3 linked regions of the Homo sapiens genome follow. The protein of the gene in region 1 interacts with the protein of each later gene in a biochemical or structural test. Each region holds a gene or a part of one and is shown in the gene's direction. Other genes may lie near its edges.

Region 1 (7,766 bases):
CTCACAGCAGGCCTTGACCTCCAGGCTCAAGCGATCCTCCCACCTCAAGGGATCCTCCCACCTCAGCTTCCCAAGTTGCTGGAACTAGAAGCACATACTACTATGTCTGGCTAATTTTAAATTTTTTTGTAGAGATGGGGTCTTGCCATTTTGCCCAGGCTGGTCTCAAACTCCAGGGCTCAAATGATTCCCTTGCTTTGGGTCTCCCAAAGTGTTGGGATTACAGGCATGAGCCACCTTGCCTAGCCCAGAGCATGATTTTCATAAGGAATTAAACTCAGGGGTCTAAACTCAAGATACCCACCTAGCTCCTGGTCTGTGACTTCAGGATGTTCATGGTGGAACTTTAGAGTTCTGCACCTTGCCCTTCGGCCCTCTCCTTCAGCAGACAAGGTGGCCTCTTCCAGTCCAGGGTTCGTGCCCCCAACCCACTCTAGTTCCCATCTCCTCTCATCCTCAGTACCTGTTCTATCAATGAACCATCCCTTCCTCTCAACCTCACCTACCAACCCAGATGCTTGCCTGCCCACACATTTTTAAAGAAGCCTCTACCCTTACCTCCCACTTGCTAGACAGCTACATTTCTGAAAAGAGTTGTCCACGCTTACTGTCTCCCACTCCGTCCTCAACCCACCGCAATCTGGCTTCCAATCCCTCCACTCCATCGAGACAGCTCTGGTAAAAGTTATCAGCCTTCTCATTGTCAAATGAAATGAACACTTGCTTTCTGGTCCTTTCTTGATGAAATTTCCTGTGACATTTGTGAATGTTGCTCATTCCTTCCTTGTAAAAGCAATTTCTTCCCATGCCCCCTGGTTCTCCTCTGGTTCTCTTCTTCTCATTATTCACTCTCCCAACAGCTTGAACTGGCAAGAAAGACAGTGCAGGGTGGTGAAGAGCCTGGACTCCAATGCTCCTTGATATGGTTTGGCTGTGTCCCCACCCAAATTTCATCTTGAATTCCCATATGCATTCCCCTGCACAAACTCTCTCTCTCTTTGCCTGCTGCCATCCACGTAAGACATGACTTGCTCCTCCTTGTCTTCTGCTGTGATTGTAAGGCTTCCCCAGCTGCGTGGAACTGTAAGTCCAATTAAATGTCTTTCTTTTGTAAATTTCCCAGTCTCACGTATGTCTTTATCAGAAGCCTGAAAATGGACTAATACACTCCTCTACTCACTAGTGGTTGGCCTTGGGCAAGTTACTCAACACTCCTGTGCCTCAGTTTCCTCAACTGCAAGATGGTGTAAGGCTTTTTAGTCTCATTGTTTTCCATGTCTGAACATGCATCATGTTCTCAGATCATGCTGAACCTGGTAGAGTCACCCACATATATTATGTGTTCATGCTCAGTCTTTACTCAGGCACTTGGGAGTGCCCAGCCAGTATCTGTGAATATATGCATGAACACTACTCTGGATTGGGTTTCCCCAGAAGTATACCTTGAGACAAGGAGATGGGTGCAGTTACTTTATTTGGGATCCCAAGAACAAATAAGGAAGTGAGAAAGTAAGGCAAGGAAGGGAGAAGAGGCAAAATCAAAGAGTGACTTAATGAGGGAGTGACTGCTGGGGGCAACTGGACTCATTCCTACTGGGGAATTCCTCTGAGGAACTGCCTTGAGAGCATTTGAGAATTGATCTTCCTTAGGGAAGGGGAGGCTGACACATTCATCCACTGTTTGGTTAAGGACTGACCCAGGGCTGTTGGAAACTTCCAGGCTAGGCAAGATCCCACAGCCCTTGAGAAAGCCTCCTGGTAGAGAGGAGAAAGGGGGCCTGCTTTGGATAGACAGTTTCTCTGTACAGAGGGCAGCTCATTGCAGCTGCCGGTGAGCTCAGAGGTGGGCCCAGGGGACATGGAGCCGAGCATCACTAACACTCACGCTTGTTACTCTGGTTGGCAGGCCTGTGCCCCCTTATCTAGCTACATAGGTCCCATCTCCTCCTTGAAAGTTCGTTCAAGAGCACCCACTTCTTGGAAGCATTTTCCAACTTATCTCCACCCTACTCCACCTTCAATGTTCTGAATAGCCCTGGATACCCTGGACATGACTCTATAAGAGTACTTATCTCTCTGCTTACTAGATAGAGCTTTCCTGTCTTTCTTAGCAAGAATAGTTCTTTTTCATCATTGCACATGTAGGGCCCAGATTTTTTTAGCACATTACAGGCACTTAACCGATGCCTTAAAATGAATTCAAGTTCACCTTGCTCAGGGACCCACTCAGAGCAAGTGGTCAACAAATGTGGACTCCTTTCCTCCATCTGATTTAGGAGAACAGTCATCTAGTGAGTATACAATATGACAAATATATTCTTTAAACAGAAATGCCAAGGAAGCACAAAGGAGGGAGTAATTAACTGGGACTATACCAATGAGACTATAGTTACCTCATTTGACAGTCTTAATTACTTAGGTTTTTTTTTTTTTTTTTTTTTTTTTTTTTTTTGAGACGGAGTCTCACTCTGTCACCCTGTCTGGGATGCAATGGCATGATCTCAGCTCACTGCAACCTCTGCCTCCCGGGTTCAAGCGATTCTCCTGCCTCAGCCTCTGGAGAAGCTGGGATTACAGGTGCCCACCACCACGCCCGGCAATTTTTTGTATTTTTAGTAGACACGGGGTTTCACCATGTTGGCCAGACTGGTCTCAAACTCCTGACCTTAGGTGATCTACCTGCTCGGCCTCCCAAAGTGCTGGGATTACAGGCGTGAGCCACCGCGCCTGGCCTACTTATAGTTTTAGTTTTCCAGAAGCACTAATAGAGCCATCTGGTGCTCCTTCCACCGCACTGGGCGTTCCCTTTTGAATCTCTCCACCAAAGAGGAAGCCACAGGGAGCTGCGGGACCGAGTGAACCACCCTACCTCAGGCAGAGGTCCCATCTGCAACTCTAGTTTGTTTGCTTCTTTCATTTATTCAACACGTGTTTATCGATGGTCTCATATGGGCCAGCACTGTTCTAAGGAAACAGGCAAAGGTACTGCTGTAATGCAGTTTACCCATGCAGTGGGGAGAGTGGGGGGCAGATAAAAAATAAGCAACCAATCATGTAGGCTACATTAAACAGTGACAAGGGCTATGAAGCAATCAAACAGGATGCGCTATGTTTGGGAGAGGTGGAGGTGGGGTGTAGGTGCCAGAGACAAGCAGATCACATGGTTGGGGAAAACCTATCTGCGGAGCTGACTTCTGGGCTGTGAGCTGCGTGCCAAGAACAGCCATACAAGGGTTCTTCCAGGCAGAGGGGACGGCAGCTACAGTGGGCCTGGAGCAGGACCCTGGGACTCCTGGTGCCCAGCTCAGAGCTGTCCTACTGCTTCTGGCCACGGAGAGAGAATTGCAGAAAAGGAACAATGCTGGGTCTAAAACTGGTATCTGTTCCTTACTTGGAGTAAACGAGCTGGTACCCAACTTTCAGTTCCCAGCAGGTTCATTTCAGGCTTCTGTTTTCGCTCATGAGCATGTTGTTCCCTCTTCAAAGTCTGATTGGGTTTCAAAGGAATCTGAAACACTTACAGCAAAACCACCAAGCTGCATCCTCCAGGTAGACACCCCCGAAATGTGGCATTTCCGTGGGAAACCACAATGAATCACTCATTGGCTGCCCGACCTCTCTGCCCAGTCAGAGATTGATTTTGGTTTTCCCAAACTTTGTAAATCCGCTCCAGACTGTTTAACAACCCCCACTCCCCACTACACCCAGACTCTCAGATTAGGAGCAAAATCCCAAATTTTGTGAGGTTTTCTGTTTCGGATTTCACCAGAAGGGGGTCTGCCACAGCCACTAACCATTTCCTCTGCAGAGAGCCGTTTCTGAAATGCTGCAAAGAAAAACAATCACCCAATGATTAGGAGGGAAATTAAGTTCTAAAGAAAGACTACTGTCTCTGACTTTGAAAGTAGACATAGATATGCACAATATACATCCCACAAATTAAAATCCTCCTTTCTCTGATGTCTTTTAATGGTAATAATAAGGACAAGCATGGCTATCATTTATTTGGGCGTTTCCAATGTGCCAGTCCCTGTCTAAACATTCAGCTTCCAGATCAAACCTATGAGGGTGGAATTAACATCCATTTCATAAATGGAAACTGAGGCTCAGGAAAGTTGAGCGAGTTACTCAAGGTAACATGAGTAGAAAAAAGGCCATATTCCAACCGGACACAGAGCCTGCAGCCCACACAATTACTCTCCATACTGTTCCTATACTATCCTGACTGGGAAGGTCCTGTTCCCTTGGCACTGGGCAAAAATAAAATTATAAGAGCAGAGAGGAAGTGGTGAAAGGGGGCAGCCTGGTGAAATCATTCCTTTACTGAAAATAGGGGTAACGGCCAGGACAGTGCAGGTCCATCCTCTGCAGATGGAAGACAGGCACGTCCTTTGCCGCTGTCCCGGCCTTAGAAAGGCACCTTCCGCGTCCAGGGTTTTCTGTGGATAAATCCCACCCCTTCCACCTCAGGCGGGGAGGAGGCCGGCCGGCCGGGGCATGGGGCGGAAGGCGAAGGACGCCCGACCCCGGCCGAGGTCTGGGGCCCCTCCCACGCCCCCCTCGTGGCTGCCGGCGGGCCAAGGGTTAAGCGAGGCGGGAGCCCCCGGCGCGGAGCGGCTCGGGGCCGGGAATGCTTAGTCAGGATTCCGATTTCCTGTCGAAGTGTTTGGATTTCCTGAAACCCGCGCCCTCCGCCGCCGAGCGGGATCGTGCGAGCCGCTCGCGTCGCCGCGGCCTCCTCCCCCTCGGCACATGGTCGCCCGCCCCTTCCTGCGCCGCGCTCGGCTCCCGCGCCTCGCCTGGCCTGGCCGCTGCCGCGGGCGAGCACTGTGCGCTGGGCAGCCCCGGGCCCGCGCCTCCCGCCCAGCCGGCGCTTCCCGGTCGCAGTTCGCTTTCCCACCCGAGAGCCGCGAGCGCCCGGCCGAACCCGCGATGGAATAATGCCCAGCGGCCCGCCAGGTCCCGGTGAGTTGCGGGGCGCTCGGGCGCGCTCGGCGGGGCCGGGCGGAGTCGCCCACAGTCGCGGGCGCCCCCTGCCCAGTCTCTCGCGCGAAGAAGGGCGCCGGGACGGGGCGCGGGGCGGGCTCCCGGCTCCTCTCGCAGCGGGGTGTCCTTCTCCGCGGGGAGGGCGCCGGCCCTGGGCTGGGGCGTGTGCGGGACGCGCGGCCAGGCTCTGCGGGGCCGGGCGAGGCCGCCCGGTGGGGGGGGGAGGTCTCCTCGCCTCCAGCTCGGGAGAGGGGGCCCCTGCAGTGGGGCCGGGGACGGGGCCCGCCCTGGGGGGTTTCGCGTCCCCCTCCGGGGGAGGGCCCGGGACGACGTGCTTGGCGGCCCGGACCCCGCCGATGGGGCGCCCTCCCGGCATTGTCTCTGGTGCAGCCGAGGAAAGTTCCCCGCGGCCCCCGGCCCCTACCCGGACCCGGCGCTGCTTGGCAGGCCCCAGGCCACTTGCCTAAAGCAAAAGAAGAGAAACGAAAGGGAAGGGGGTGGGGGGAGTCCTACTTGGAGCTTGGGGTTGGCTCCTGGGCGGACCGTGAAGTGGCTTGTGTTTTCTGCTTGTACCATTTTGGGACCTGCTGCGTTTTCTGAGAGCGACATGAAGTTTCAAAGAAAAAAGAAACTTGCCGGTGTCCGGTTTTCTGCGGTTTGATACATCCCAAGAGGTTCATCTTGGGCACTTCTAAAGCAGTTTCCTTTAATAATGTGGTTTTCCAGTAGCTCAGGGAGAAGGATGGTCAACTGCAGACCATCATCGTTAACTTGACCTCAACTTTACCTGTACTCGTCAGGAAAGCAAAAGAACTTTCTCTCGCATTTTCCCCTGTCTACTCTGTTAGGTTATCTTGGCGTGATTGATTCTGGGATGACATCAGGACCTGGATTGCTGAGTAATGTTTTGGGATTGTAAAAGCTTATCAGTTTTTAGGCCAGGGTTATCTGTATTGCAACCTTCATCCCAAAGCCTTTCTGTTTTGCAATTGTAGCGCGGCCAGATAGCTTTAAGAAAATGCGGGTCTTCTGGAAACACCCAGTGAACAGTTTGGAAAGAAAAAGATCTTTGAGAACAACTGATTCACCCCCTTCAGAGAAGGCCCAGAAAGGTGACCTGACTTGCCCAAGATCACATGGCCAGGAGTAGTTTCCACTTCTTCAGGCTCAGTCCCATGCCCCTTCTGTGTTAGATTTTGATCTGTTAGCCATGAAACAGATTTGGAAACGTCTTCTTTGCGTCACAGCCTTCACCACTTTAGTGCCTTCTCTTCTGTCCTGTTAATGCTGCTATTTTTGAGATATGCACTTATTTCAAACTGCATATTTTGAGATAGGGAGTTAAAAAAAACAAAAATCACCTAACGCCACTAAGTGGATTTGGAGATTCAGCTACCAAATGGATTTGAAGTATAAAATGAGTGGCTTATTATACGGGGAATTACTTTCCCTATCCCATTCTTTTGTGCAAAATAGAAACTCCCAGGTCCAAAAAAGGGCAGTATCTTAGCACATAATGTACCCTCTGATGTTCTCTAGACTTGATTTTCAGCCCTCCTGTTTCTTGTGAGCTAAGCAGCCCATCTATTTTTCTCATGAGAGCTCTGAATGGCTGGTTTTTCATTTTTAGTATGTGATAATGTTGGAGAGAAAGGACTTTTCGCAAGCTTGCCATTTGGTGAGGGAAATTGAAATTCTCTACACCTCCCCAGTCCTCACCAGCCACAGCGAGCCAGATTTTCAAAATCAGTGCAAGCCTGGCAGGCCCAAAGATGAATGTGTGCATTCAGATTGAGCCCTCCCTTGTGAAGACTCACGTCCCAGCTGGCATCTCCATGCTGCACCTAGGTGACTGAAGTCTAGAGGAAAGAAGGGAACCCCAGTTAGCTAGGACAGTGTTGTTCCTGCCATTTCCCCACCTAGGTCTCAGCCGTATTTGGATCCTGCTGCTCGGTTCTCATTTTTCCCTGCCGTTTTTTCACCCAACCACTGCTGTATCTGGCATGGGCTCCGGAAGGTCTTTTCTAGGAGACTGCATGAGTGATCCCCACGTGAGCAATAGTAACAGTCACCCCATTTATTAAGCACTTGCTGTATGCCCTAGACATGTTACCTCCTAAGAAGTCCTAAGGAGGAGCGGAAACTTCTTGGGGAGCCTTGCCCAGAAAGGACAGCACATCTCAGATTTATCTGGAATCGAGTTTTTCTTTCATGCATCCAGTGAAACATTTGCTAAGTGGCTTCCCTGTGGGAGGTGCCAGTCCTGCAAAGATGAATAGGACCCTGTTCTCAAGGCCTTCTATTTCCAGCCTCATCTTTCAATGTCAGCCTCACACTTTCTCTTTTAATTCATCAATTGAACAACCATGCATTGAGCACCTGCGCCATGCTAAGCCCTGTGTGGAGTCCTGATGATACAGTGGTGGACGAAATAGACCTGGCACTGCCCTTCTGGAGCTTGCATTCCTCTGGAGGAGATGAGCAACAAGGAAGAAGCAGAAGAAACAACCTCTAACAGATGAGTGATTCCTTGTTATCAAGGAAACAAACCTGGGACCAAAGTAGGGGCTGGTGGCACAAGTTGGTCCTAGTTTTGGAAGGGAAAGCCTTTCTGAGATTGGAAAATGGAGAAGGAACTGGCCAGGCAGAGAGATTGCAGGGGAGGGCCTTCCAGGCAGAGGGATGGGAATGTGCAAAGTTGACTATGCACAAAAGAGCTTGGTGTATTCCAAGGAGTGAGGGAAGGCAGGGCTAGAGTGTAAGGGAGAGATGGGGGGAAT
Region 2 (7,024 bases), on another chromosome or scaffold:
ACGTGGAAGGCCTTGCCGCTTGGCACCTTAGTTTCTAACACTGAGAGCTGTTTATTTTTAAACTTGGCCATGTAGCAGGTCAGATAAGACTAGCTGGCAACACCTGGCAGTCTTTCTGAGTTTACATTTTAAGGGAATAATTACAGGTGTTGTATGGCAGAGGTTTCACCCCCTTCTGTCCCCACCGAAAAGCTCAGAAGATTCTGTAGCTTTATTAGTGCCACTGTTGTGTGGACAGGGGCCATGCTTAGAACACACTTCCCAGCAGGGAAGGGGAACTTGACTGATTACAGCCTTTCCGGCACAGAAGCAGAGCAGTGTGGGTTTCTCAAGGTGTGTTTTGGGGCAGGCTTTCCTGTGCTGACCAGCTGTCCTCAGCCCCAGCTGTCCTCAGCCAATCAGGGGAGCCAGGTCCCAAGCAAGCCAGGTCTAGTCCAGCTGCCTGTCCTTTCCCGTGATGCTGACATGGGTTGTTTGTGTGGGCTTAGCACAGTCCTTAGGGCAGGGTATGTGCCCAGGCTGTGGAGCAGGCACGTGGCAGAGGAGGGGCCTAGGATAGGTCAGCTCCCTTGGTCGGTGGCAGTGTCGTCATTTCGTTTCCACCTGCTGCAGCCCCTCTCCCAGGATCAAGCTGTCAGTCAGAGCTTGAGGTTTACAGAGCACCCTTACCACCCTCACCTTGTGGGTCTGGCTGTAACGTTGTGGACAGGACAGGAATGTGCTCATTTTGTAGACACGAAGGCACAGAGAGGTCCAACTTCCGGGGCTGTTCTCTGTTGTCTCCAAGCCCCAGAGTCACGTGTCCCCCTCTGGGTTCTCACAGCCTGCCCTCCCCTCAGCCCACCTCTGTCATGACTCAGCGCACTTGGTCACTGTCCCTGTGACCACCTTGAAGACCAGCCATGGATCTTCTCGATTTCTGCCCCGGCTCCGTTGTGGCTCTCCCTCCCTCCAGCCTCACGCCACCCCACCCTACCCCCTGAATAGAAATGCCAGCCTGGATTAGGGCTTCCTTCCTGAGCCTCGGGGACTGAGAACAGTGAGTAGGGAGAGGCGACTCAGCCCCTCCTGCCATACTGGTCCAGAGCAGGCTCCTGCTTCCTCCTCTCCTTCCTCCTGCAGGATGGGCTTCCATTCTGCTGAGGGGACAGTCCTCATTCCACAGTGTTCTCAAGCTTGTGCTCAGAGCCAGGCTCTTTCTGGGAGTGAATGAACACAGTCCTGCAGAGGAAGGCAGTGCAGGGCTAGCCAGGGGCCAAGCAGGGCTGATAGGAGCCATGCCAGGAGAAGCGTTGGCATGGTGTGGGTGGGTGCCCAACACCTGGGAGAAGCATCTGCTCACTTCAGAAGGTCCCCCCTTCTCTGGCCACCTTTAAGTAAATTAAGACTTCTAAGATGTGGAAATTTGAGTTTTTATAGAGTTCAGTGGCTTTAAATAAAGGAAAGGCATGGCCGGGCGCGGTGGCTCACGCCTGTAATCCCTGCACTTTGGGAGGCCGAGGCGAATGGATCACCTGAGGTCAGGAGTTCGAGATCAGCCAGCCTGGCCAACATGGTGAAACCCCGTCTCTACTAAAAATACAAAAATTTAGCCAGGCGTGGTGGCGGGCACCTGTAATCCCAGCTACTCGGGAGGCTGAGGCAGGAGAATCTCTTGAACCTGGGAGACAGAGTTTGCAGTGAGCCAAGATCACGTCTCTGCACTCCAGCCGGGACAATAAGAGCGAAACTCCATCCCAAAAATAAAAATAAAGGAAAGGCATGTAATCCCCCAATTTTCCTAACACGAGGGGCAGAGCAAATTCAGCTTTGGGAACTGAAAAAGGCACAGAGTCCCTGAGAGAAAAATATCTGAAACCCTGAAAGGAAACCCTCTGTGGTCTAAATGGCCACATTGAACAGCCGAGGTGTGAGCAGAGCAGACCCCACCATGGCCGGCGCTGAGTGACCCGCAGCTTCTCTCCCCTGCACAGGGCCCCAGTACGGGACCGTGGAGAAGGCCTGGATGGCCTTCATGTCCGAGGCAGAGAGGGTGAGCGAGCTGCACCTCGAGGTGAAGGCCTCACTGATGAACGATGACTTCGAGAAGATCAAGAACTGGCAGAAGGAAGCCTTTCACAAGCAGATGATGGGCGGCTTCAAGGAGACCAAGGAAGCTGAGGACGGCTTTCGGAAGGCACAGAAGCCCTGGGCCAAGAAGCTGAAAGAGGTACATCTGTCCTGCAGGCTTCCCTGCCCGGCCTTGCTCTGCCTGGCACCCCACTAGCAGCACCACCTCCTGCACCTAGGACTTCCTGCCACTGGCTGTAGGCACAGGAGGCCAGACCTGGTAGAGATGAAGCCACTCCTCAGGCTAGAAGCCCATGGTAGTTGACATTTACCCAGGTTGAAGATGCTGAATGCTCTATGTGCATTCTTTAAATTTTTTATTTTTATTTTTTGAGACAAAGTCTCACTCTCTCTCCCAGGCTGGAGTGCAGTGGTGCAATCTCAGCTCACTGCAACCTGTGCCTCCTGGGTTCAAGCAATTCTGCCTCAGCCCTCCGAGTAGCTGGGACTACCGGCACATGCCACCACACCCTGCTAATTTTTGTATTTTTAGTAGAGACGGGGTTTCACCATGTTGGCCAGGCTGGTCTCGAACTCTTGACCTCAGGTGATCCACCCACCTTGGCCTCCCAAAGTGCTGGAATTACAGGGCATTCTTTAAATTTGATCCTACCAACACATTTTACAGATTTGGTAACTGAGGATCAGAACCATACATTGGTGGTAGAGCTCAAAGCCCAAGCTCTTAACCACTAACAGTACTTCTCCCAACCCTGGGGAAGTGTCTGCTGGAGACTTAAAAGTCCTTGCCGGGCGCGGTGGCTCACGCCTGTAATCCCAGCACTTTGGGAGGCTGAGGCAGGCGGATCACGAGGTCAGGAGATTGAGACCATCCTGGCCAACATGATGAAACCCCATCTCTACTAAAAGTACAAAAATTAGCAGGGCGTGGTGGCGGGCACCTGTAGTTCCAGCTACTCAGGAGGCTGAGGGAGGAGAATCACTTGAACCCAGGAGGTGGAAGTTGCAGTGAGCTGAGATCACGCCACTGCACTCCAGCCTGGTGACAGAGGGAGACTCTGTCTCAAAAAAAAAAAAAAAAGTCCCTTTGGCTGCTCTGCGTGTGCAGTAGCCTTTCTTTATTCCTTTACTTTCTCAATAAACTTGCTTTCACTTTATTTTTTTTTCAAGTCCCTTTGACGATAGAAAGAACTAGTTTACATTTTTCTTTCTCTTGCATAGGTTTTTATCCCAAAATTTCAAACATTGATACCTGTTTTTCTAAAAGTAGCAACCAAAGCCATTGAGTTTTGTCGAGCCTTGGCTAGTTGGAGGCTGTCATCTGTCCACCCCAGCCCTCAGCTTGTGTGCCCCGCCCCTGCCTGCAGCCTCGCCCCCCATTCCTAGCTGGAATGGAGTAGACGGTAGATGTGCCACCCCCAACACCCAGATGTTCTCTGGCCTTGCGCTGCCTTCCTCCGCCTCAGAATCATCCAGAACATGCCTCTGTCCTTCCGGATGGTTTTCTCTGTGTCTCCTTTTCTCTGTGTCTTAGCTTTTGTCACATCTCCTTTCTCTTCTGTTTTGTCCCTGGCCCCATTCATAATGAAACTGTCTGTGTCTCATGAGGCCTTTGCTAATAAACTCCTCCTTCCCTCTAGAATGAAATTTGTGGCTTTGGCTCAAATAAGGAAGGATCTGTTAAGAGTGTGTGTGTGTGTGTGTGTGTGTGTAAAAACCATTAAAACCAGAGGAAATGTGGCTGATGGCCCTGCCCCCTAGTATGGTCCTCTCTCTCATGCTGGGTTCCTCCTTGGAACTTTCTTTGTATTTGCCGATCCTGCGGCCTGGCATGGTCTTCCTGGGATGCCCATAACCCCTCCATGTGCGTGTTCCATGTGCGTGCTCCATGTGCGTGTTCCATGTCATCTCAGTGGCTTTCTCCACCCACCCCATGCTCCGTCTCAGTTGTCCTCCCCTACACTTAATGCCCTCTAATTGACTCTGGCATGTAACTTTTCCTATACTGTATCTGCCTCCTGCAACTCAAATGAAAGCTTCACAAAGACCTTGTGTTTCTTGCTGTGTTCCTGGTGCCTCGAACCATGCACAGGACAAGCAAGTACTCCATGAATATGTGTTGAGTGCGTTCCTGTTGTGACTGGTTGCTATGATAGTATACATACAATTTTGTACCTGCCTTTTTCTCCCCTCTTGGTAGCACAAGCATTCCCATGGTCTGTGTGACTTCTAGTGAGGATCCTGAACTCCCAGTGACATGGCATTCAGGAACTCATTCTCCCTGTAGGTAGAAGCAGCAAAGAAAGCCCACCATGCAGCGTGCAAAGAGGAGAAGCTGGCTATCTCACGAGAAGCCAACAGCAAGGCAGACCCATCCCTCAACCCTGAACAGCTCAAGAAATTGCAAGACAAAATAGAAAAGTGCAAGCAAGATGTTCTTAAGGTAAACTGTACACTTGTTTTTACACGTCGAGTGTCACCGTGTCAGTTGTTGACGTGTCTGGCATATAGCCTTCTGTAACTGCTTGGGTGAATGGGTGGATAGAGGGATAAATAACCAATAAAACACACCCCTGTCCTCAAGAAGGCCACAGGTGAGTGCCCTAGCACCTCGCCTCACCATAGCCACTGTACCTGCTCAGTCAAGGGACAGAGCCAGGCTCTGGGCAAGCCAGGGGTAAGAGACAGCTCTTGGTGCTCAGAGACACAAGGACAGCTGGGATTGCTGCAGGGAGCTGCTTGTGCCAACATGGGCGTCGCCAGTGGTGGGTGTGAATGGGTGTGGCTGGTGGCAGGTGTGAATGGTTGTGGCCAGTGGTGGGTGTGAATGGGTGTGGTGTGAGCTGGTATGGAGGGTTATGAGGACCAAATCACCAGTGGCCTGGACAGCCAGGCTGAGTAAGGAGCTTAGGATGCTGCTGACCAGGAGCCACTCAGGAAGGCCTGAGCCTGGGTGGGATCAGGGAGGAGGTGAGGAGGGTGAGATGGTTTAGAAGGATTGCTCTGCTTGTGTAGGGAGAGGGGCTGGGGGCAGAGACCTGGGGGAGGGACTGCAGGCTGGGAGCGCTTGTCTGGGGGAGCCAGGTGGGAGGGAGGATGGAGGGGCCCTGCAGTCTCCACAGTGACAGGCCCCGAAAGTGAGGCAGAGGCTGTGGAGCCAGGGGTGGCAGAAGGGTGGTCTTTGGCCAAGGAGAGACCGTGACCAGGCACTGTGGCATCATGGGTGCCCTTCCATTTCTGTTGTGAAGCGGAGATTTTCTGCCCCATGGGTTAATGAGAAATCATTGTGTAAACTATTACATGCTCCGCAGGTGTAGATAAGTGATTCTGCCTGGAAGGTCCTGGAGTCACAGGACTTAAAACCAGACAGCGTCATCGTCTTGTGATTTAAAAGTTCACAGGAAGGGAGGGGCTCAGCCCTCGGCCCCACCTCCCCTCCTTTGGTCAGCCATGAGGGGTGAGGGCTGGGGGGTGTGATTGCCGAGGGCCTGCCCTGCCTCGGTGTTTGGAGAGGAGATTCCCAACCAGGATTTGCAGAGAGAGACGGAATGAGGTAGAGAGAGGCTGCACTCCAGGAAGAGGACATGGGCAGAGGGGAGGCAAGAGGCCTAAGCTGGTTTCACTACCCACCAGCCTTTCCTGGCCCCTGTCAGTTAGGTGGTGGCATCCCTGTTTTGTGAATGAGGAAACCAAGATCAGAGAGGTTAAGTCACGTGCCATCCAGCAGGTGAGAGCAGGAACTTCTGACCTCAAGCCCATACATATGCCCTTTCTCCACTGTTCCTCACTGCTATGCCGTCGGTGTAGCAAGGGGAACACGTCATCTACACGAGAGTTCGTCACTCAGACCAAGTGTCAGAATCCTCTGGGAAACCCCTCTCACTCCCATTGCTGGAGCCAGGAATCTGGGCTTTTGAAGCAGCCCAGGTGCCTCCACGGTGGGATCAGGTGAGGAGCCTGGAACCAACTACTGAGTGGGAGGCACCTGGGCTCAAGAAGCACAAGGTCCGGGAGAACTCTCGGGCCTTTGCCAGAATCCCAGGGAATCAGGTGCCCAAAAAGGTGCCTAGAGGAAAGATGGGGCTTCTCCATGTTGGGCGGGGGCGTGCCTGTGTGAGAGAAAGGGAGACAGAGATGGAGAGGAAGAGGCCTTTCATGTTTGACAGCCACCCAGAACATCAACTCAGGCTTTTGCAGAACAGGCCCAGGGCTCGAGGTTGGACATAAGCGCCTGGCAGGATGACTGGGACAGTTTGTAGTGGGTTCCCTCCTGGGACCCTCCCTGCCTCTTTGGTCTGGCCAGTGACTGCAGGATATGAGAGGTCCTTGTGTGCCTAGAGCTCTGGAGAGGAGGCCAGTCCCTCCCCACCACCCTTCTTGACGCAGTTTCCAAAATCCAGCACACAGCCTGGGAAACATAGTGAGACCTCATCTCTACAAAAAATTTAAAAACTTAGTTGGGTGTGGTAGCACGTGCCTGTAGTCCCAGCTACTTTGGAGGCTGAGGCGGGAGGATTGCTTGAGCCCAGGAGTTCAAGGCTGCTGCAAGCTGTGGTCACACCACTGCACTCCAGCCTGGGTGACAGAGTGAGACCTCATCTCTAAAGTAGGTAAGTAGGTAGGTACATACATACCTACCTACCTACCTACCTACCTACCTACCTACCTACATACATACCATTGCTGACTGGTTGCACATGTACTTTCATGTTTCTTATCAGCCATCAACTACATCTTGTAGCATCCATCATAAAAGAACTTTTTGCATTTAGTGCTAAAATATTACAATCCACCTAAGGGTGAAGGCCGCCTCTTGTTTTACTCCATGGGTGTTCGCTGAGAACTTTCTATGCCCTGCAAGGGGATTTCCAGAACAGTGATGACCCTGCTGAGTACCTGGCCTGTGCTGGGGGCAGGACTTGGGGCTAGCAGGGTCGGCACAGGCTGAGGGCAG
Region 3 (7,024 bases), on another chromosome or scaffold:
AGTAAGCGATGATAAATAAAACAGTATATTGTTTGTACTTGGAATTTCTGATTAAATGTGTCACAACTGTTGTCTTATATTAGAATTGGTTATTTCTACCTTGTTGCTGACAGTTATTTTCAATATGTTTACAATTTGGAGGTAAAAAAATGCTTTTGCCAAGTAAAATTTATTAGAGAAGAAAATCCTTTCAGCATGAAAATATATAATGATACCAAAAATTGATTGATCATCTTATTTTCATGTACTTCATTACTTAATTGCTCATAAAGATATAATTTACTGTATAATTAGAATAAAGTATTCTTTTTTTACTGTAATAAAGGGCAGATGATCTTGTGTTGCTCTTTTAGTGAGTTTTATTCATATTGAGATTTCATTTTACAAAAGTCATGTCAGTTTTTTTACACTTGTTTTAAACTGGCAGCAGCTTAGTTAAAAATAGCTGTTTCCAGTGAACATGAAGCTCCTACAAAATCTGTATTTTTAAAAATTCACTCTATCATGCATATGATGTGGACACATTTTGCTTTACAATATGTAAAAGTCTATTATAAAGTAAAATATATTAGGTCATTTTATGAGTTTGCTGGAGCTGCTGTAACAAAGTACTACAAACTGAGTCGTTTCAACGACAGAAATACATTGTTTCCCACTTCTTGAGACAAGCACACTTGAAGTCTGAGACCAAGGTGCCAGTAGGGCCACGAGCTCTCTGAAGGTATGAGACAGGATCTATTCGAGGCTGCCTTCTTAGCTCTTGTGCTTTGTTGGGAATCTTTGGGCTTCCTTGGCTTGTAGATACATCACCTTGGTCTCTGCCTTCATGCTCACATGACATTCTCCCTGTGTGTGTCTCAGTGTCCAAATTTCCCCATTTTGTAAGGACCCCAGTCATATAGGATTGGGCAAGCCCATCCTACTCCAGTATGATTTTATCTTAAATAATTACCATCTGTAATGCCCCTATTTCCAAATAAAGTTGCATTCTGAGCTATTGTAATTAGGACTTTAATATGAATTTTGGGAGGGGCACAGTTCAATCCATAACAGTCGTTATTTGCATAAAAGGATTAACCACAGTATTCTATATTTGATTCAACATCTAAGAGGACAGTTCAGCCTATAAATAACATATAACTTTCTATTGCATCAAAAAGATATACTTTCTCCTTTTTTAATGAGTTGGTTAGTATATTGCTAAGTTCTGAATGTGTCCCTCTAAAATACGTATGTTGAAGCTTGACTGCCAATGTGACAGTATTAAGAAATGGGGCCTTTAGGAGGTGACTAAGTCATGAGGGCACTCATGATTAAGTCATGAATGGGATTAGTGCTCTCTTAAAAGAAGTTGAAGGGGTCACCCTGTCCCCTTCCACCGTGTGAGGGTTTAGCAACAAGGCACCATCTTTGAAGCAAAGGGTGGGCCCTAGCCAGGCACAAATCTGTTAGTGCCTTCATCTTGGACTGCTAGCCTCCCAAACTGTGAGAAATAAATTCTATTATTTATAAATTACCCCGTCTAAGATATTTTGTTAGTAGCCTGAACAGACTAAGTCAGAAATATACCTATTATAAATTGTGTTTTCTGATTTTTTTAAATGATAAAATTAATTTGGGTAGGCTGGGTTTTATGATACAGTCTGGTATATGTTTATTTGTCACACTCAGATTCCTTAACTGGGAAAATTTCATCATGTTTGTGTTCTGTGTCTTTTTGTTTTACCTAATTTCCTCTTTCAGAATGCTGTATTTTATATGGATGCTTTGCTCAGGAGACCATTACATAAGTCTTTTCATGCATTTGTTGATTTGGTGAGATGTTAAACTTACTAAGTATTGGATTAAATATCTAATTAGTTATGACTTTATCTCAGTGAGATTTTCAGTTTCTTAATTGCCTCTAAGCAGTCAACTCTCTGCTGCCTTTAAAATCTTGGCTGTGGCTTGTTGCTTGACCCAGGATTTCTACACCTGTACCCTTTCACATTCTTAGCCAGTAGTCTCTAATAGGCTGCAAGGGGCCTATATATTTTATAAAATTATAAGTAACATTTTATACATGCATTTTTCTGAGGGAGAATGCCCTTAGCCTGTTACCAGATTCTTAAATAAATTCCTAATTGCTGCCCCTTCCTCCCCTCGAAAAGTAAAAATAGGGTGGGGCGTGGTGGCTCACTCCTGTAATCCCAACACTTTGGGAGGCCAAGGCGGGCGGATCACTTGAGGTCAGGAGTTCAAAACCGGCTTTGCCAGTGCAGTGAAACCTCGTCTCTACTAAAAATACAAAAAGATTAGCTGGGCGAGGTGGCAGGTGCCTGTAATCCCACCTACCCAGGAGGCTGAGGCAGGAGAATTGCCTGAACCCAGGAGGCCGAGGTTGCAGTGAGTCAAGATGGTGCCACTGCACTCCAGCCTGGGCAACAGAGTGAGATTCTGTTTCAAATAAATAAATAAATAAATTCATCATGTCATCAGGAGAAAGTGGATGTTTCTTACAATAATCACTCCAACAGTTCTGTTACTGGGCTTTAGGATGCCTGATCAAAATGCAGCCTTCTCTGCATTAATTTAGCAGCAATCAAATGTAAAAAACCTTTCCAGAGGTGTCAGGATTGAATGAGGTAATGCTTGTGAGAGTGCCATGCTTGCATAATAAGGATCACTTGAACCATGTAAAACAAAATGTTGTTAATGCGCTTGAAGTCAACGATACGGGCCTGTGGGGTATATGAAAAGAAAGTGGTGACTGAAAATGATTTCTCTGTAGACTGAGAGTCCTCGTGATTGAAGTTTGTGTTGTTGAAACAGCTATATTTTTGCAAGCTTTTTTCCCCATAGTGATTCTTTAATATTTTAAATTGAGTTTATATGAATTTTGGTTTCAGTCTACTTAGAAAATTTTAAAGTAACCTGCAAATTAATTAGAAGTACCCTAGAAAATGGCAAGACTTGGTTGGGGCAAATGGTGACTGTTTTGAGACAGATGTCATTGTGGAAGGGAGAGGTTTAATATTCAGGGGAAGGGAGCTGAAGCTTGCAGAGCAGATTCCATTCTGCCAAGCCTCTTGTGCTGCATACAGAGTCTCAGGGCATCAAGCAACCCGAGGGCTTTCTTCAGAGGAGTAGCTTGAGGCAGCGGCGAGAGAAGGGCAGGACACACTGACAAATGAATAATGAGAATTAGGTGAGGAGATGGAGTTTAAGAACTGCTTCAAACTTTAAGGTGGATACCTGATGGGGCTTTCTAGAGATGAGCAATTCTTCTCAATTTAAGGCCAGATAGGGGAGATGCTAAGTAGGTAAGAAGTCAGTGGATTTTTTGGCCTCCTTTTTTCTCTTTTTGTTCTTTTAATCCTTCGTACCCTTGTCCTGTGTTCTTTTAGGTAATGTTCAGTGAGGTGTAGCCACAAGAGGGGACATAGGAGAGGCTCAAGAAAACAGAGTTTATTATACTCACATGTCTTAGAATGACAATCACTGTACAGGAGGATAGGAGGGGGGACACGTGGGGTGGAGGTGACAGCTCTGAGAGCAGGATCAGCTAAGCAGGTGGGAAACAGGTGGGAGCAGAGAGAGCAAGGACTGTGGGCAAGTGCCTTTACTAGTGATCTCAGTGCAGTTCACAGCTCAGTGCAGTTCACAGTGCGTTGCATTGGTGCATTGGTAGGTCGTGGTCAGAAGAAGACAGAGAGGTGAACTTGTGGTAGGGGCCAACCTTATCAAACTTGTGCACCTGGTTACCTGGGTGGGGTGTTCACAGTTAGCGTATGTGGGAATGAATGTTGAGGCAGCAAGAGGCAGCAGGAGACAACATGTGAAGTTTTGAAACTTTGTAGTACAACCCTTCTCAGTGTTTTTGGTTTAGAATTTATTGTTTCCATAATCACTTAAGGAGCCTAAAAGCTTAAGAATGATGTACATGGTATCCGATGGATAATAAAGACTAAAGAGAGCTATAACTATACTTATTAAAATGCCATGATTGTGAGACCCTGCCAAGTCTTTTGCATTCTACCAACAAAATATTTTCATGCTATACTAAATCATTAGCTGATGACAAATGCTTCAGGAAATAATTTCACTATTTATAAAGGTTTTACATTTAGTACAACTTCTAAATGCCAAATATGATGTTGTAGTTGCTCTACCCTAATCTCCCTCCGCCATCCCCTGGGTCAAATTGTATATAGTAGTAATGAATATGGAGAAGCTGTCTGTAATACTCGTGAAGAACCCACAGCTCCATGGAGGTTTACTTGGATACTTAGGACACTGAAGGACCTCTAGGCAGTGTTTTCTGCCTTTTTTTGAATTATGATATATATAAAAAATAGAAATATCTTTTTTATAATTCAAACTAACCTTTCCCCATAGATACTAATGGAAGCAGTTTTATAATGCTGAGAAACATCTCAATATCAAGCTATGTATTAGTCTGTTCTCATGTTGCTAATAAAGGCATACCCGAGACTGGGTAATTTATAAAGGAAAGAGGTGTAATTGACTCACAGTTCTGCATGGCTAGGGAGGGCTCAGGAAACTTACAGTCATGGCAGAAGGGGGATCAAAAATGTCCTTCACATGACGGCAGCAAGGAGAAGTACAGAGCAAAGTGGGGTAAAAGCCCCTTATAAAACCGTCAGCTCTCGTGAGAATTCACTCACTATCACGAGAACAGTGTGGCGGTAACCACCCCTATGATTCAATTACCTCCCACCAGGTCCCTCCCATGACACATGGGGATTGTGGGAACTACAGTTTAAGATGAGATTTGGGTGGGGACACAGCCAAACCGTATCACAGAATAATGCTTGAAAGAAACATAAAGCAGATAGCCTATGCTTTTAAACGTACAGGAAATCGGCTGGGTGCGGTGGCTCATGCCTGCAATCCCAGCACTTTGGGAGGTCGAGGCAGGCAGATCACTTGAGGAGTTTGAGACCAGCTTGGCCAACATGGCAAAACCTCGTCTCTACTAAAAATGGGAAAATTAGCCAGGCTTGGTGATGCACAGCTGTATTTCTGGCTACTCAGGAGGCTGAGGCAGGAGAATTGCTTGCACCTGGGAGGCGGAGGCTACAGTGAGCCAAGATCACACCGTTGCACTCCAGCCTGGGCGACAGAGCGAGACTGTCTCAAAAACAAAACAAAACAAAACAAAAAGTACAGGAAATAATGTCCACAGTGAATGACTCCAGTGAGGAAAGGAGAGAAGGGGAGTCAGGACAGTTATTGTCCATAACAGTGATGGCATCCTGCAGGGGGCATTGTGAAATCCCCTGCCTGCCAGTAGAGGAAGTTCCTTGGTTTTACAATCTGGCTCTGCAATCTGGGAAGAACTCTTGTTCTTTCTTATATATATTTGGCCAGGTCTAAGGAGGGTTAGAGGAAATCTGCCCTCTTTGGGAACGGCATAACTTTTCAGTCAACTTCCTGTTTATTTAAATTTGGGGATTGTTTTACAGTCATAGGGTTTTCACTATCCATGGTAGATTTGAGTAATGAAATTTCTTCATAAACTTAGTAGGCTTCTGGCCAAGTGCGGTAGCTCATGCCTGTAATCCCCGCACTTTGGGAGGCCGAGGTGGGCGGGTCACCTGAGGCCAGGGGTTCAAGACCAGCCTGGACAACATGGTGAAGCCGCTTCTCTACTAAAACTACAAAAATTAGCCAGGCATGGTGGCCTACGCCTGTAGTCCCAGCTACTCGGGAGGCTGAAGCTTGAACCTGGGAGAGTTGCTTGAACCTGGGAGGCAGAGGTTGCAGTGAGCCAGATTGCACCACTGCACTCCAGCCTGAGCAGTAGAGCAAGTCACTGTCTCAAAAAAACAAAAACCAAAAAAAAAAAACCAGAAAAACTTCAACTTAATAGGCTTCTGATGTGTTTTCTTGTGAGTTTCATTTGCCAATTTCTATGATGGAAATTCTTTTTTAGACCTAATTTTCATCCAGTAGACTTGGTTGTGTTACTCTGAACTTAACAAGAGGGCCTGATACTTTGGCTTAACCAAGAAGTCTTAATGGTACTTTGTTGCTCAAAGTCTTTTTCATTTATATTTCCCGTTATTTGCTTCAGGGACTCAGGATGACCCTGGATCGGTTCTGCCATCTGTAACATATGGTTTTCAAGGTTGCCAAAGGGAAAGAATATGTTTGAACAAGCATGGGAGATGTTCATAAGCCAGGCCTGGAAGAGGAATATGGTAGACAGAATGCTACGATTGTTGGTGACTCTTGCTCTTGTGTACTCTCCTCCCCTTTGAGTGTGGGTGCAATGTTCAATTTGAAAAGATGTTATTCCTGAGACTTTTAACTTTGTAAGACAAAAGGGAGATTATATGATTGGACTTAATCTAATCTCATGAGCCCTTTAAAAGCAGGATATTTTCTCTGGCTGGTAGTGGAAGGAAAAATCAGAGAGATTGGAAGTATGAGCAGGACTGGACATGCTGTTGTTGGTTTAAAGAGGGAGGGGCCATGTGAGTAGTAATGCAGGCAGCCTCTAGGAGCAGAAATCAGCTCTTTGGTGACCATCAGCAGGGAAAATAGGGATCTTAGACCCACAGCCTTGAAGAATCTGAGAGGAAGGGAATTCTTCCCCCAAGCTTCCAGATAAGAGCCCAGTCTAGCCAACGCCTTCATTTTGGCCTTGTGAGGCCCTCAACAGGGAGCTCACTTAAGCAGGCCCAGACTTCTAATTTATAGAATTGTAAGATAATAAATGGGTATTGTTTTAAGCTGCTAAATTTGTGGTAATTTGTTATACAACAGCTGAAAATGAAGAGAAGGAATAGTTCCTTCTGTTTATGTTTGGTTGGCTGGAACTTGTAACATGGCCCCTCTGTGGTACACCTAAGAGAAATGGAAGAAGGCAAGTGTAGCCTAGCTATGTGCCCAGGATGTAAAAGTGGGTTTTTGGTTAAAAAGCTAGCAGTTTTGCTATTACTGGTGCCTATAATTAATTAATTGTGTGTCTGTATATTAATCTATTTGTGAGCTTGTAAGTGTATGTATATGTGCA

The links. Proteins that work in one complex are often made in the same cells at the same time.
Region 2: the proteins of ASAP1 (region 1) and PACSIN2 form a complex in vitro, tested with the Homo sapiens proteins (one study listed by IntAct).
Region 3: the proteins of ASAP1 (region 1) and SH3GL2 form a complex in vitro, tested with the Homo sapiens proteins (one study listed by IntAct).

What each region holds. Positions count from the first base shown.
Region 1 is NC_000008.11:130,440,659-130,448,424, reverse strand, and holds the start of ASAP1 (arf-GAP with SH3 domain, ANK repeat and PH domain-containing protein 1), read left to right. Parts: upstream 1-4,750; 5' UTR 4,751-4,965; intron 4,966-7,766. UniProt on the Homo sapiens protein: Possesses phosphatidylinositol 4,5-bisphosphate-dependent GTPase-activating protein activity for ARF1 (ADP ribosylation factor 1) and ARF5 and a lesser activity towards ARF6.
Region 2 is NC_000022.11:42,886,132-42,893,155, reverse strand, and holds part of PACSIN2 (protein kinase C and casein kinase substrate in neurons protein 2), read left to right. Parts: intron 1-1,973; coding exon 1,974-2,209; intron 2,210-4,357; coding exon 4,358-4,513; intron 4,514-7,024.
Region 3 is NC_000009.12:17,582,060-17,589,083, forward strand, and holds part of SH3GL2 (endophilin-A1), read left to right. Parts: intron 1-7,024. UniProt on the Homo sapiens protein: Implicated in synaptic vesicle endocytosis. May recruit other proteins to membranes with high curvature. Required for BDNF-dependent dendrite outgrowth.